Homo sapiens: one gene and its partner. The protein of the gene in region 2 purifies or fractionates together with the protein of the main gene of each other region. This does not show direct contact. Each region holds a gene or a part of one and is shown on either strand. Other genes may lie near its edges.

Region 1 (5,214 bases), on a different chromosome or scaffold from region 2:
GGTTTCTTTAAGTTATATGATGACTTTATGCTTATAGACCTGTTGTCATCTGCAGTTGGGAAACACACTCACCATCTCCCTGTTGTCCTATTTCACTACGATGCCCAGCCCCAAAGCCACAGGGAACAATCAGAGTCCGTAGCCTGGAGCACTGTGCCTGAGAAAATGTCCCTGAGCGCTTTCAGGGAAGTGTTCCCAGGGACAGCTGAAACAAACTGCCCTTGTGGTCATCATCAGGATCCTAGAATAGCACTCCTCGACAGCTCTCTCCAAGCGGTGGAAATGGAAATGTACATGTATATTTGCAATGTCCAATTCAGGAGCCACTTGCCACACCAAGTACCTGAAATGACTACTGGGCATCTGAAATGTGGTTCCTGTGAATGAAGACTAAACTTGATTTTATTTAACTATTTTCAGTTAAAATTTTTTTTTTTAGAGACAGAGTCTCGTTCTGTTGCCCAGGCTGGAGTGCAGTGGTGCGACCTCGGCTCACCACAACCTCTACCTCCCAGGTTCAAGCGATTCTCCTGCCTCAGCCTCCCAAGTAGCTGGGACTACAGGCATATGCCACCATGCCCAGCTAATTTTTGTATTTTTAGTAGAGATGGGGTTTCACTACGTTAGCCAGGTTGGTCTCAAACTCCTGACCTCATGATTCGCTTGCTTCGGCCTCCCAAAGTGCTGGGATTACAGGCATGAGCCATAGCGCCCAGCCTCAGTTAAAATTTATATAGTCATATGTGGCTACTGGCTATTATACTAAACTATCGTGTTTGGACTATCATGTTTTATAATCGTGTAATAGGGCTGTATAGTACAGCCCTAGAGAGAGCCGATGACACCTCTTTGATCAGTAAGTGATAGATTCCTATGCCAGTCTATCTAGACTCATGTGAAAATCGGTAACTCTAGTACGGGCACAGGCCAGTCTCTGTGAAAATACTGTTTGTCAGAAAAGCATCTTGGCACCTCTGGCCTCCCCCACTTCACCTTTCCTTCCCCTCCCTGGAAGGACAGAGTTTACGAACTCACTGTAAAACTCACCTTCGCCATAAGACCTTCTTCAACTAAGTGCTCCATGTGAACCCCAGGGTTTGATATGGTACTGCCTGTGATCTGTCATTCTGGGTACTATTTCCTGCTTCCAGCTGGTTGGCAGCCAGCCCACCTGCTCCATCTTCCACCCCAGCTACTGCGGAAATAGGGACCATGCTCGCCTTCTTCCTCAGCAGGGGCAGGGGAGACCTCCCTTCTGTGCTGCCATGATAACCCTGAGTCCTTGCACAGAATGCACTGCGCTGTTGCCTCAGTATCCACCCATGTTTCAGGGACTTAGGGACAGAATGAAACCTGCCCAAGGCAGGAAAGATGTTATTACAGAACATGACAGTCCAAAGCACAGCCTCAAAATCTGCACCAAGATTTCTGGGCAGGGAAAAAGTTATCATCAGGAAGGCACAGACTTGTTAGCGAAATGCTCTGACCTAGCCCAAGAAACCAGGTGCTTCTCTGCTCCTGACATCAGGCTTGGCCAGGCTGTCAAGTGCTCCAAAAAGTGCTCCAACTTTGATCCTGCCCATCTAGGGCAGAAGCTGAACGGCTCAACAATGATACTACTGAGCTGAGAGCCTTCAGCAAGTCTTTTCCAAGCTGCAGCCTTTGCTTCTTCCCTAGTAGAGAGTAGCTGCTGGTGATAACCAGTAAAGACCTTCTAAAACCAGGATTTGAATTCTGTTACTACTGGAGACACTGAGAATCCGGAACATGGTCTTTTCCACCTCAGGAACCATCACCATACCCCACCTGAAGAGTAGGGCCTCAGGCAGTTTGAGAGTGAAGTTCCCAGGGACTTCCAGTCTGAGCTGCTGAGCCTGCTTTGATGAGCAGATGCCCTTCCAACCCCCGCTCTGCATACCTGTATTTATGTCGCCCACAGTTGCTTGTTTGTAGTGGCCATAGATGAACAGCATCTCCTCATCCGATGGCTTGGTCTTAAGGTGCCTAACCTCCTCTGCAGCTTTCTCAAACTCAGCCTAAATGGAAGGGAGAGGAGAGGATTGAGGGCCTCCTCTGGGTGGGAGAGGGTAAGAATCCTACTGTGGCCTGATGACAGCCCAGTTACGGGGATGGAGAGGTGGGAAAGGTGGCACCCTTCGGGCAATGCAGCCCCTGAAGTGTGTCTGCCCCTCCCTGCCCCAACAGGGCAGCTAGAAAGATTCAGCAACACAAGAAGGGGAAGCCCCTCCAGTTCACTCATTCAATCGAAAACCATATATCCAGAGCTCTCACAAACGCAGGCATCAGGTCTGGAAATACAGCAGTGAAGAGGGCAGGCCAAGCCTTCGCCCCCAGTGGGGGTCCCCTCTGCGGGAGAAGCAGCGCGGCCAACTGCCTGGCCACCACCGGGCCAGGCACTAGGGAGTGGCCGGGGCTGCAGCGAAGCCCTGGCCTGAGGACAGACGGGGCACAGTATGCTGGAAACAGCTGAAAGGGGACAGGGCATGAGTGCCGCGGTGTCAGCGCCGGAGCCCGTTGGTCCCCTCCCTCCCCCTGGGGCCCGCGCGTTCAACACCGACCTCTGTCCCAGTGCCCGGATTGGCAGAGGCAGGCGGGAGGAGCCAGAGGTCGCCCCACATAGCTCGGTCTCAGACAAGGGTCTACACTGGAGAGAAGGGAGGGGCCCCTGGGTCACCTCTCCCCGGGCCGCGATTCTCCTCGTCCCGCACTCTGAGCAGCCGGCCCCGTACTTCCCCTGACCTCCAAGCTCTCGGCCACGGACTCCTCGCTTCCCCACTCCGCCGCGACGTCCTGCCCTGTGCTTCGGGATGGGGACTGAGTCTCCTCGCTCCTCCAATCCGTGCAACCCCTTCCCCCATCTCTCCATCAAGCACCCTCGACTCCCACCCCTCTCCCGCTACACAGCGAAGTCCACCCCATGGGCAACTTTCCGGCAGTTGCGGGGTGGGCAGCAGATTTAGAAATCCCCAAACGGAAAATCCCGCTCACAAGGCTCTGTCCAACGAATCAGGGCTAGGCATGGGCCCATGAGCAAGTGAGGGGCACGGAAGGAAAGAGCCCGAGAGCTTCTGGCAGCCGGCTGAGCCCCCAACGGGCCTCCCGCCCGCTGCACCTTCGCAGCCTGGCTGTGCACGCGCTGTACCTGAGACATCCTGGCCGACTTGCAAGAACTCCAGGGAGACAGCGGAGGAGGCGAGGACCAGGAAGCGATCGCCCAGATTGCACTGGCAAGCGCCTTTAGAGGCGCGGTCCACTCGCCCCAACCCTGCTCGGGCGAGCACCGGAAAGCCAATCAGAAGCCAGCTATGCGCTAGGGGCGTGCCCAGCCCCCGCCGCGGCGCTAGCCCCGCCCGAGCCCACGTGGGACCGCTTGCGCAAACGCCGGGAGTAGCCGAAGGGGACGCCGGGAACAGGTGGGGACAACGGAAGTAGGGTGCTTAGTTTTGCTGCCGGGAGTTGGTCGAGAGTTGGGTTCAGTCCTGGCCCGTTGTGGGGACGGCACGCGGGGGAAGGGGAGGGGACGGAGACCGAAGAACGGAGGTCCTTATGTTTCTTTTCTTTCCTTAAATCTTGCCCGGCCTGAAGAGGCCGGAAGTTGCATCTCTGGACAAGTAAACTCTGAGACCTGGGAATGGCGGGCGGGACCCGCTCCTCCCTTGGGGTCTAGAGGAGACCCCCGGAGATGGTCCCTGATGAGCAGCGTGATGGTGGAAAGCTGGACTGGTCTCCCGAAAGGCGAAGCCGAGGCTTCTTCCTCTGAACTTTTGGCACGTTCTTTGACTTGCTTGTGGCCGTAGTGTCAGGCCTGTATTGCACATTTATGTCTGTGGTGCATTTCTCCATCTGGTGCGTTAAAGGCAGGGACGGTGTCTTATTTGTCTTGATTTAACAAACTTGGACGGGACGAAGTGCTCAGCAAATATTTGTTAAATGAATGGCTGTTTATTGAACTCCTGTTGGGTAACTTGCACTGTTCTAGACCTTGGCAGACAGCAGTGAACAAAGCGGGTGAATCCCTGCAATCTTGGAACTTACAAGTAGGGACAGTAGTTTATACAATAAGTTAAATATAGAGTACTTTAGGGGCTTAGAGAGTTGGAAGTTTATAGTTTTAAATGGAGGAGGGGGAGTATTGAGGGAAGGTGACATTTGAGAAAGTTCCTCAAGGAGGGGAGGGAAGATTCCAAGCAGAGAACAAGTGTAAAGGCGTGGGCAAGGAACCAGGGGAAGAGTAGAAAGATGAGGCTGGAGAGTTTTGGCGGTGGCAGACTGGCTAGGTGATGCAGAAGTTGGCCATCACAGGGACTTTGACTGTCATGCTGAGTGAGATGGGAAATCGTAAAAGGGTTTGAAAAGAGGATGAGGAGACGGAGGGGAACGTCTTTGCGAGATTGTTACACAGCCTAATCTCCATGGGAACTGAAAGGAGCAGCACAGGTGTCTGGAAGTGTTTTAGGATCGATGTTTAAGAAGCTAAAGGAAGACTTCTCTGGCAGTGGTTGCAAAGGAGCTGGGTGAAGAGAGGGAAATGATGGAAAATTCTCTGGAGATCATTAAAAAAGCAAAGTCATTCCTCTCTAATTCATAATTTGTGGCAAGAGGGCTGGACTACAAATCTCTGCCCTGCCTACACCTTCCCCCTCCCCAGGGAAGGTAGACGCTTTCAGACTTAACTTGCTAACTTAATGTAGGTCACGTTTTATGGAATGTTTGGGAAGAAATGAAGATGCAATAGGGAACAAATCTAGGGTTTTCAGTCTGAGCATAATTTTGTTTGAGAAAGGAAAACCAAACAAATTAACAAAAATCTTGGAGTTAAATATGGGGAAAGTACACTGAAGTGTAAGAAATGCAGGTTTCTTCGAAAATCACAATTCAGAGCTGCTTTTTCCATTTGAGGCCTGGATTTGTTTTTGCTCTACTTGGTGCTTACAGCTTCCTTGATGGAAACTCAGATTATTGCTTGTGTGGGCCAGATTTGCAGTCAAATACATCTCCTAGTCAGCAGGTTTTAAGTTAGGGTATTGTTGAGATTAGGTACTTTGAGAATGCAGTTATCACTTCTCAAAGATCAGTTGCTTTTAGTTTTTTAGTTTTTGTTTTTTAATTATTTTCGCGTGTGATGTGGTCTCACTCTTTTACCTAGGCTGTAGTTCAGTGGCACAATCTCAGCTCTCTGCAGCCTTGAACTCC
Region 2 (4,509 bases):
GCTTTGTTGCTCTCGATCAAAGCTCAGGCTGGATAGGATGGTGCCTGTGCCATTCTGGATAACAAAGTCACCGTTGTCCTGCTCCACTGAGAGCTGCACCTGGGCATTCTCCCCCTTGTCTCCATCAATGACAGTCACCATGCCCACTGGACTCAGTGCTGGCATGTTCTCCATCACTGAGAAGTTGTAGCCACTCAGCATAAATTTGGGGTCATTGTCATTGCAGTCCAGCACATTGACAAGGACAGTGGCTGTGCCCTGGAGGCTAGGACTGCCCCGGTCAGCTGCCACCACCTTCAACTCATAGCTCTCCCGCTGTTCCCGATCCAGAGATGTCTTCACCTGGATCTCTCCAGTCTCGGGTGAGATGGTGAAGAGGCCCTTAGCAGCCGGCTCAGGCTCCAGAGAGTAAACCAGCTCAGCATTAGAGCCAGAGTCAGCATCACTGGCAGTGATCTCAGCAATCACTTCACCAGGCTTGTTGTTTTCCGGGAAGGCGACCTCAGTGACACTCTGAGTGAAGACAGGTGCGTTGTCATTGACGTCCACCACCTGCACCTTGAGGGAGTTAGTGCTGGAGAGTGGGGGGTTGCCAGAGTCCACAGCCACAATCTCAATGGTGTAGTCTTTGACCTTCTCGTAGTCTAGCGGGGTGGTAGTCTGCAGGAAATACTTCTTCTTGCTGTCACTGCCTGTCTCACTGGCCTGGCGCAGCTGGAAGGGCACATCACCTGCCACCACACAGGTGACAGCTGCATTCTCTCCCTCATCTCGGTCAGACACCTGCACCAGGGCCACAGCTGTCTCCTCTGCCACATCCTCTGAGATGTTAGCCATCCCATCTTGATGAGTCACTAGCCCTATGCCCCGGATCTCAATGGTGGGGGCATTGTCATTCATGTCCTTCACGGTCACAACCACCTGGGCACGGGCACTCTTGGGGTTGGTGCCTCGGTCCTTAGCAAGCACTGAGAAGCGCAGGGTGCTTAGGTCCTCACGGTCCACCGGGCCCTGAACAGTGATAAGTCCAGTGTTCCTGTCCAGTCGAAGAAGACGCCTCACAACTTCGGGCGCCTGGTGGAATGTGTATTCGATTTCTGCATTGGCACCTTGGTCTGAGTCATTGGCCTTCACCTATAGGGCAGGAGAGAAAAACAAGGAGAACAGAGATGGTTTAGATCAGGGATAGCAAATAAAGGGGCACACATGCTGCCAATGTCCTTTCCAACAAGCATGGCAGACACAGCCAATCCAACATCGCTCCCTTTCCAGAAGCCATGTGTGTCCTGCCTTTTCCCAATTCGGACATTCTGGCAGGCATTACTAACCTATTTTCCTGAAGAGCCCAGATGCAGCCTGCAAATCCTCAACAGTGCTACAGGCAACTATTGGAGATGGGACAGGGCAGAATTAAACCTCACTTGTCATTGCTGTATGGGTCCACAAAAATACCAGGAGAGGATGAGGATCCAATAGAACTAGGGAAGCCATTTCACCAATGAACCCTGCCTGAACCCTCCTGAAGAGATGGAGAGGTGCGAGTAGTAGAGGCGGTGTGTGTGCCCGTGTGAATGTGCACTACATGCACGCACGCATGCACATATGTATGTGTATGATTGTGTCAGAATGTGTGATTAAATGTGATATGTTTGTGTGAGAAGGTATATGTGTTTGTATGTGTATGATTGTGTCAGAATGTGTGATTATGTGTGATTTTTGTGTGAGAAGGTATATGTGTTTGTGCATATGTGTGTTTGCACACATGAGTAAAGACTCACATGCCCATCTGAAGGCCCCAGGTTGGGGGATTTCTTTTGAAAGAAGTCAGGTAGGGTTGTGGGTCAGAGAAGCCCTCCAGGCCGGGCCCCAGCCACCGCTCTGTCAAACCGGGGAAACCTGTTTCAGCAGCAACTTCTCCTCCCGACTGGCACCGGCTGGCGAGGCACCAATGCGAGGAATCCGGCCTGAGCCTGCAGCCAGGAGGGAGGGGTTGATGCAGGCCACAGAGCCTGCTGGCAGTGGGCTGGGCTCCCAGCATCAAACAATGAACTGTCTGTCCCTCTGCAGTCAGCGGGCACACCCTCCCACGCCAACTCCAACGCGCACTCGACTCAACTCTATACAAACATGGTTGGTAATGGGGAAGAGGACCCAGGTGGGAATGGCCATGGGGTACTACTGGGCAGGGAGAAACATGAGGGCTGGAGTTAGGTCACAGCCAGACAGAATGTGACTGCTGTGGGGAGTGAGGGGAGAATAAGCATAACTTGGCAGAGTCTCTGGGGTAACAAAACAGAAGAGTCCTGGGTTCAAATCCCAGTTATACCACTTCCCAAGTAACTATGTGACCTTGGGCCAATTATTTAACCTCCCTAAGCCTCAGTCTATGAATGTGTGAAATGGGGATAATAATGTAACCTATTTCACAGAACTGTGGTGAGCATCAAATGGGATAATACAGGTAAAAATGCCTGACATTGCCCGGCACAGGGAAAGTGCTCCCTAAAGAGCATGTATTTCTTTTTGTCTGTCCAACCATCTACCCTCCTACCCGCCTGCCTCTGAAAAATCAGTGCTAATGCAGTAGTGGGCACTGCACCTAGTGAGCCCTCAAGCCACTGCCAGTCCTCTCCTCCTTGGGAATGGGAACTCCAGCTATCCCCGCCTGGGCTTTTCCTACAGTGAAGACTCCTGGGCAATGGTTCCCCAGGTACCCTGGTCTCTGCTCACATCTCTGAGTGCCAAACCCTAACAGTTTCTCCTCCCCTCACCCCAGTCTACCTGTCATCAACTTTATGATGAGGATCCCCAGTCTCCCTTGGCTCTAGATTGGTCTTCCAGCTTATCTGTCTCTTGTCTTACCTCTCTTTGTCTCTGTGACTCTTGGCTTCTGTCTCCTTTCTATCCTTGCTCAGTTCTGATTCTTCCCCTTTCCCACAGCCTGTTTTCTTCCATCCTCTCTTTTCAGCCCTGCTGACCTCTCTGCTTACTCTCTGCCCTACTCTCCCGCTTCACCTCACTGGGAGGTGGTAAAGCTCTTACACACCTAGGCTCTGAAGCCAGACTCTTGGCTGCGGCAAAGGTGGACTCTGAACTCATTAGCTGTAGGATATCAGGCGAGTTTTCTAATCTGTTTGGGCCCGGTTTCTCATCTGCAAAATGGGGATAATACTTACCTTGTACTGTAAGGATTAAATGATATAATACACATCATGTGTTTAGAACGGTGCCTGGCACCTAGGCTATTATTATTTGCTATCCCCGACTGTCTGTCTCCCTTTTCTTTCTCAGTCTCTTTTCCAGGTCCCAGTCCACCAGGCTCTAAAAAAAAAAAAAAAGGCTGAAACTCCCACCCATCTCCCACTTTGGCTTGAGGACCCAGGACTAAGGGTTTTCCAGGATGGGTAATGGTGTCCAGGGCAGGCCGAGCCTCCTCAGCTCCCTCACATCAAAGAGAGAGGCATCTTCAGCCCATGGGGAAGGGGAAAGGAGCTGGGGCTGGCAGGAGGCCAGAGCTGAGATGACAGCGGGAGATACACCCACCTGTCTGCAGAGACGCTTTCTTTGCTCCCTCCCAGTCCCCAGCCCCACCAAGCTGCCTAGCGCCTGGGGCAGTTCCCATGGAGAGGGGTGCTGAGAACTTCAACAGAGGAAATTGACCCCCCACTGAACCCCACTGTACCAAGCACCCCACATCTATGGGCACCCCATGCCTAGGGGAGGAGGCATGTATACAGACACCCTAGTATGTTTTTTCAGAACTCTGAGGGTCCCACCTGGCTAAAATGATCTCATCTGACTTTGTCAGGAAGAGGCAAAATGAGGCTATATCCTCCAGCTTCAGGAAAACCTCATCTGGCTAAAGAGAAACTATCCCTGGTTGGGAAGATACTCTCATCTCAGGAGAGATTCTACCTGGATAAACGGTGATTCCTTTGTTCCAACTCAGCTCACCTGGCTAGCAGAGAAGGATCTACTTGACTAGGGCGGGAGTTTTACTTCTCAGAGGTTCCCCCAGCTTGAGTCTGCCTTAGGGGTCACGGGAAACTGTTCATATGCTATTTCACTGTCACCTAAGTAGCCTGATAGAGGAAAGTAATATCACCTGCTGGGGTGGGGTGGGAAAGACTCCCCTGGCTGAGTTTGGGGAGAAGGGGTCTCACTACAGTATTCTGGCAGTTTTTCCCCTAAGTGAAGGGAACTCTCACCTGGTTGGGTGGGCTCCCATTTCTAGTGGTGGGTCACCCTGACAGTTATACGGAGGGGGCCTCTCACCTGGATGACCGAGTGGCCTATGGGGCTATTCTCAGATAGTTCGGCCTCATAGGAGGGCCGCTCAAACTTGGGGGCGTTGTCATTGGTGTCAAGCACGGTGACACGCAGCAGGGCACTGCTGGCGCGTGGGGGGCTGCCGCCATCCTGCACCTTGATGGTGAGGTCATAGGAGTCCCAGCGCTCACGGTCCAGGTTGCCCATCACAATGAGCTGTGGTTGCTTCTCCTCCTGGTC

The links. The genes of interacting proteins can lie anywhere in the genome.
Region 1: the proteins of PCDH1 (region 2) and DBI purify together in Homo sapiens (affinity purification with mass spectrometry; one large-scale study listed by BioGRID and IntAct). This does not show direct contact.

What each region holds. Positions count from the first base shown.
Region 1 is NC_000002.12:119,365,010-119,370,223, reverse strand, and holds the start of DBI (acyl-CoA-binding protein), read right to left. Parts: upstream 3,248-5,214; 5' UTR 3,173-3,247; coding exon 3,164-3,172; coding exon of another isoform or gene 3,134-3,163; exon of another isoform or gene 2,888-3,133; coding exon of another isoform or gene 2,696-2,887; intron 2,666-2,695; exon of another isoform or gene 2,640-2,665; coding exon of another isoform or gene 2,580-2,639; intron 2,511-2,579; exon of another isoform or gene 2,305-2,510; coding exon of another isoform or gene 2,293-2,304; intron 2,037-2,292; coding exon 1,919-2,036; intron 1-1,918.
Region 2 is NC_000005.10:141,864,294-141,868,802, forward strand, and holds part of PCDH1 (protocadherin-1 isoform 2 precursor), read right to left. Parts: coding exon 4,276-4,509; intron 4,186-4,275; exon of another isoform or gene 3,177-4,185; intron 1,910-3,176; exon of another isoform or gene 1,779-1,909; intron 1,135-1,778; coding exon 1-1,134. UniProt on the Homo sapiens protein: May be involved in cell-cell interaction processes and in cell adhesion.